Linked DNA regions of Homo sapiens: region 2 is linked to region 1. Evidence: fine-mapped QTL for protein levels in blood plasma. A gene starts in region 1. The other region holds a variant in brackets. All regions are shown on one strand. Distances are from middle to middle.

Region 1 (2,912 bases):
ACAGACGTGGAATGCACCAACACGGAATAGTAAAACCTTTGCTAACCAGACACACAAAAAGTAAAACAGAGAAATGAAAACTATACACCTGAATGCATCGGTAGCAAGCGCTTATTCTCTATAATTAAGCAACAGAGAAAAGAATAAGAGCAGCTAATGGAAGAGGAAAAAAGATGTTAATGAAACTAAGCCCTGTTATGTCCCCTACTGGCCTCAATTTCAGAGTACAACTCTCGATTCTTCATCTAACCAACAGCCGGCCTCGGCAAAGCAAACTGACCCTAACACCTTCCACGCCACCCGGAGGAAATCACAGAGGAAAAACCATCCCGTTAACCTCCCTCCTCACCAGCTGCAAAAATGGAGCTGGGAGGGGGGGCGGGAGACACTCTACCACGTGGGCAGGATGCAACACACACAGGACAGCAACACGTCCGCATGGAACGGCTGCCTTTGCCCTAATCCCAGCAAAGGACACAGACACAGGATGGGCGGGAACGCAAGCACCCTCGCATGGGCCTCCTCTCCCCAAAGGGCCACTCCAAGGCGTGAGGTACAGCCCGCCCTGCCGGCAGAAAAGCGCCCCCAAGCTTAAAGGGAAGAAGCCGCAGAGTGCCGGGGTCGGGGGCTAGCCCAGGCCAAGGGACAGGTCATGGAGGGAAGGAGACGGTCGCTGCCCTCGGACTAGGCGCCCCCGGGATCCACGTCTGGTTCCCCGGTGCCCCGCCTGGGGGAGGGGCGGGAGACGCGAAGCCGCTGCTTCCCAGCTGAGGGGCAGCAGCAGCTGAGAAGCGCCGCGGGGGAGGGAAGGACCCAGCCCTCGGCGTCCGCCAGGCCCCAGCCGGGGCCCAGGCCCCCTGCCCCACCCGCCGCCCACCCCGCAACGCGGCTGCGGCTGGAAGAGAGAGGGCGTCTCGCGGAGGACAGCCCCTGCCTCCGTCCCGGGAGATGCCACAGCCCCGCCTCCTCGCCCGCCGCCCAGGCCCGGCCGCCCTGGCGGGGGGCACTTACCTCAGGCTGCGCAGGCCGGGACGGCCCGGCCGAGCCCCCGGCCGCTCCGTGCGTCTCCGCCCCCCCGGGAAAGGTCCCAACGGTGCCTACTGCGAGCGGTCGAGGCCCCGAGCAGCCCCGAGAGCGGCGGCGGCAGCAAGAGCAGCCAACATCCGGGGCCGCGCACCCGGAACTACTTCCCGACCCGCATCCCCCGCCCGCCCTCGCCGCCACCGCCTCCTGCGGCGTCGCTGCGCCGCCGGCCCGGCGTCAGCGGCGTCAAGTCCCTGCGCGGTCACGGTCGCTTCGACGCACGCAGGATCCCTCCGCTGGGACAAGTAGTGCCCTGAGACTCCCGAGGCTCTGCATCGGCGCAGCCGGTGTCATCTAGCGGCCGGCAGTTCCGAGCGACTTGGGGTCCTTGTGCCTCGGAGTGGCGTCTGGGAGCAAAGGCGGCGGAGGCAACCCCGCAGTTGAGGACAGTAGGGATCGGTGGCTTTGGACCCTGCCCACGGATACCTGGGGCCCCATGCCCCGAAGGAATGGTGCCTTCTGCCCTCCCCCGCCCCCCAACATCCGCCACCTCACCGAAGCGCCCGGCACCTTAGCCTCCTCTCCAGGAAAGCGGACGCCTTTTCCGACCTGGCACACCGCGGATTCCGGGACCCCCAACAAAGGCGCCTTGGACCTTCAGGACACCCCTCTTTTCAGAACTTCATGAGTCCCAGGTGCTAGACTCATGTCTGCGGAGGCCTTTCCCGTGCCTGGTCTTTCTTTCTTTCTTAAAGGAGTTGGACCTCTAAAGGCCCTTCTAATTCTCAAGGTAGCTACCCAGGTTATGGTACTACTATCAGTAGGTGGAGCGTTTAGAAGGGTAGTTTGGTCGACGAGTGAACTTTGGAATTTACTTCTACGTCAGTCTTCACTGATTCTTTCTCTAAACTATTAGCACTGATAATCTGCCCTATAATTTCACACTTAATTACATTCCAGTGTAGTATTTGCTGTTGCTTCATTCGCGTTAGTCACATATTCCCCTGCAGCGCCAAACACGCTTTTGAACTCACAATGGGTGGCTCAATATTTGGAGACTTAGATATTTGTTAGATGAATACTAGGCTGATTGGATGAGAGGAAAAGGAGAGGCATGAGTGAATTGGCCCTGGGTACTTTTTTGACATAGTCTCAAAGGGTTCAGATAAAGACCTCCAGCAGATCTGAGCACACAATTCCTTCAGTAAACATTGAACACCTGCCGTTTGGTCAAGCATTTCTAGGCACTGGAGATTCAAAGTATTCACATATTCCTTTTCTTTATAAGACTAGCAAGATTCTGAAGATTCATGTACTCATTCACTCAACAAATATTTGCCAATCACTACTAAGGTTGCCAGACACTATTTTAGTGCTTGGGATGTATCAGTAAACAGAAGAGAGAGAGAAAACAAATACCCTTCCCTGTTGGAGCTTTCATTCTAATATAAGGAGAAAGATGATAAATGTAAGAGAATTATGTAATATGTTAGAAGGCATATGGGGAAAAAAAAATACACCAGGGTAAGGGGTATGAGGAAAACTGGAGGAAGGGGGTTTGCAATTTTTTTTTAAGAGGGAATCCTGCTCTCCCGCCCAGGCTGGAGTGCAGTGGCGCGATCTCAGCTCACTGCAACTCCCGGGTTCAAGTGATTCTCCTGCCTCAGCCTCCTAAGTAGCTGGGATTACAGGCGCGCGCTACCACACCCGGCTAATTTTTGTATTTTTAGTAGAGATGGGGTTTCACCATGTTGGCCAGGCTGGTCTCAAACTCCCGAACTCAAAAGTGATCCGCGCTCTTCGGCCTCCCAAAGTGCTGGCATTACAGGCCTGAGCCACCGCGCCTGGCCTGCAATTTTAAATAGAGCCGTCAGCATGGGCCTCATTTA
Region 2 (2,912 bases), 140 kb before region 1:
AAAAGGGCTGGTTGGTTTGCTTTTGCTACATCAAGGCAACTCTTGGCTATATCAACTACTGGCTACTTGATTACAAAATTCTGCCAATAATGGATTTTTAAAATAAACAATCAACTAGAGACAACATGACCCTGCCATGAAGCAAGTCGTAACTTAGGAAGAAATTTGTTAGGTGGGAGGGGATTAAACTAATATCCAAATGAGCCACGAACATGCAAGTCTACCAGACTCAGATCCTTTAGTTCAAGAAGAACTTCATGGATAAGGAAACCAAGGTTCAAAGGAATTATATGATTTAAGTCACTTAGGTAATACAACAGCCAAAGCAGTACTAGAATCCAGATCTCTTGAGGTAAACACAACTCAGGTAGTCAAAAGGTCAGGGTAGGAAAAAGGTTAACTGAAATGAAATTATGAGCAGGAACCAGGACATTTGCCATGACTAATTTGTTGTTGTTGTTGTGGGTAAGAGGAAGAGGAGGCTCCTTTAATAAATAGTGACCTGGCAAATAAAAATAAAGCAAACTCTGCAGCGACTGGGTGAGCAAACCCTACCCACTTAGCAAATGTCTGCTAATTTTAGTTCTTTTAGAATAACTGGTGTTATAAGCTTTGAAGTCAGACATGTCAGAATATAAACCCCAGTTCTACCACTTACCACAGTATGATCTTAAGCAAATTACTTAAAATTCTTTTAGTTGCACTTTTCCTATATATAAAATGTGGTCATCTATACTTGATTTGGCAGGATAATGTAAGATAATGTATCTAAATTATAAACAAGAGTTAAAATAAAAACCTGCAAGGGTTGCTGGGTTTGCCTATGTTGCCACAATAAATTTTAATCAAGAAAGTCGCCAGGTCAGTCTATGAATTAAATGAGTTACAACTATAGGATTATAGCAAGGAAACAGATGTAAAGAGGTTTTGGTAGTAAATACTACATGAGCTCTAAATAACAAAGGACAGATCCTAATTCACAGTTAGCCAAACACAAACCAGGAGACAAAAACTTACCAGAATTACAGGATACCTGTTGTGGGGGTGGGGGTGCCTGATGTGTTAACGTCTGATGCTGATGGTTCGGATGGTGCTGTATGTGTTGATGTGGAGAGGGATGCTGGGGGTGAGGGGACTGGAGCTGGCTGTGTTGCTGTGGGTGTGGTGCTGGGTGTGGGGAACGCTGCGGATGCTGCGGTAAACCATGCGGTCGATGGGGAGGATGTGGAGATGGCTGTG[T/G]GTGCATCTGGGGGTGAGACAGTGAGACCTGTGCAACCGAATTACTGCCTGTGGTGTTGAGGCCACTGCCATGACTGTTGGACAGGCTGCTTTGGTTGCTGTGTGGGTGAGTGCTCACTGTACTGCTGGGAGAGTGCTGATAGGTACATGAAGTGTGGGACTGCTGGGAAGATTCAGAAGGGATGTTCATCAAACCTAAAAACAAAGCAAGATCATTTATGGTCAGATTTCAGTTGTATTTTATGACAAACATTTGTAAAATTATTAACATAACAAAAGCATATGATGCCAGGAAGCAACACTGGTTCAATTTAATAAGTGTTAATCCAACATCCACTGCACACTAGGCTCTGTGGTTATTGAGAAGAAATATAATGCCCCACCCTCAAGTGGAAGAGAAAGACAAGATTATGACCAACAATTTAAGTACTAAAGCTAAAGTATACAGAGGATTATGAAAACTGCTCCTTGTCTGTTCAGCTAGGAGAAGGCTGAAAATATAGAGAAGCCTTTCTTTTAAAGACAGTGCCTGAACTGAGTCTTGAAAGATAAGGAAATGTTCGGGGAAAAGTGGGAAAGGTGTGGGGGTCACACTCAGGATGGCTCTCTGTAGGCATAAAGACCAAGGCTTTGATAGAAGACCGCACAATCTAAACTAAATCTCGACTGGCTAATAGTTTAAAACTTTTCCAAATAGGTAAAAGTAATGGAAAGACAAAGGAAAAGAGGAAGTTGTTTATGCCAAATAGGGAAGGGGCATAGGCTGCAAGCTGGAACATGCCTGTGAGCACGTCCAGCACAAATATCTCAGTTAAGGTACAAGGACATAGAATGTACTACGTGCCTGTGAGCATGTTTAACAGCTACACAGGATAGGGCCCAACAAAAAGTTATTAGCATAAAGTAAGGAGGCTTAAAGGAAGTTAGTTTTTAAAAGAAACTATTATTTCTAACACTTATGATTTACTCTTTAACAAGAAGGGAAACTATGAAGAGGAACTTTTTACTTTCTACATAGTGAAGGTGTAAGCTGCAGGATGAGCTCTGTAAATGTTAGCTGCCATGATGATGATTAAGCCAAAAATGTTTAATGTTAAGGATAATTTATGTTTGTTCTCCAAGTAGTTAGATAACCTTACTGCAACATTTGGTTCTATGTAACTAGACTATTTTCAAATCCTAAAGGGTAGCCCATGCAATGTTATGCTGAACCAAACATAAAAATAATTTTATTGAATGAAAAAAAAAAACACAAGATAATATCAATCAATAAAAGAATCAAGCTTTTTAAAAAAGATAAAATTATTCTATTTGTCATTAGTAGTAAAACTGTATTTGTGTTCATTGCAAGATAATCTTAAAAGCTACCAAGTTTTACAGGCAGAAGAGTTAATAAAAGTTCTTGCCTTGGTCCTAGAAAATAGTCACATATAAGGAATCTATAGGGTTATTACTGTAAGATCAAAGAAAGCAGTAATTTATCAATTTTCAATAAAATCCTAGCATTTTACAAGGGAACCAAGGTCTGATCTGTATCAACATTTTCAATCTCAAATTATTTTTAAATAAAAGAAAGCAAAATATCTCTCCAGAAGCCCAATATATAAAACTGATAAGTATAATATAGTTTTTTTTTTTGAAGCTGGGGAAGGAAGCTTACTAGGTCTACCTCT

Direction of the effects. Alleles are on the strand shown, and positions count from the first base shown. The strength of an association depends on the size of the effect and on how common the allele is.
For the plasma level of the protein whose gene starts at base 1,188 in region 1, allele T in region 2 goes with a higher level than allele G (weak association).

The links. PIP is the chance, under the fine-mapping model, that this variant and not a neighbour inherited with it causes the effect. Protein levels are from antibody-based Olink assays in UK Biobank. Linkage for the fine-mapping came from a reference panel and not from the study's own genotypes, which makes the PIPs less certain.
Region 2: its variant is fine-mapped to the plasma level of the FOXJ3 protein (UK Biobank, PIP above 0.99). The variant lies in the coding sequence of FOXJ3. If it changes the protein, the assay may bind it differently, which can mimic a change of level.

What each region holds. Positions count from the first base shown.
Region 1 is chr1:42,334,048-42,336,959 of GRCh38, forward strand. It overlaps FOXJ3 (forkhead box J3), which reads right to left and starts at 1,188. Exons shown (of 13, transcript NM_014947.5): 1 at 1,012-1,188. RefSeq lists an enhancer at 163-1,120 and a silencer at 705-1,224.
Region 2 is chr1:42,190,286-42,193,197 of GRCh38, forward strand. It overlaps FOXJ3 (forkhead box J3), which reads right to left. Exons shown (of 13, transcript NM_014947.5): 9 at 1,018-1,434. Among named protein-coding and RNA genes, the nearest start is that of GUCA2A, 27 kb to the left of the region's middle. The variant T/G (reference allele first, on the strand shown) is at 1,240.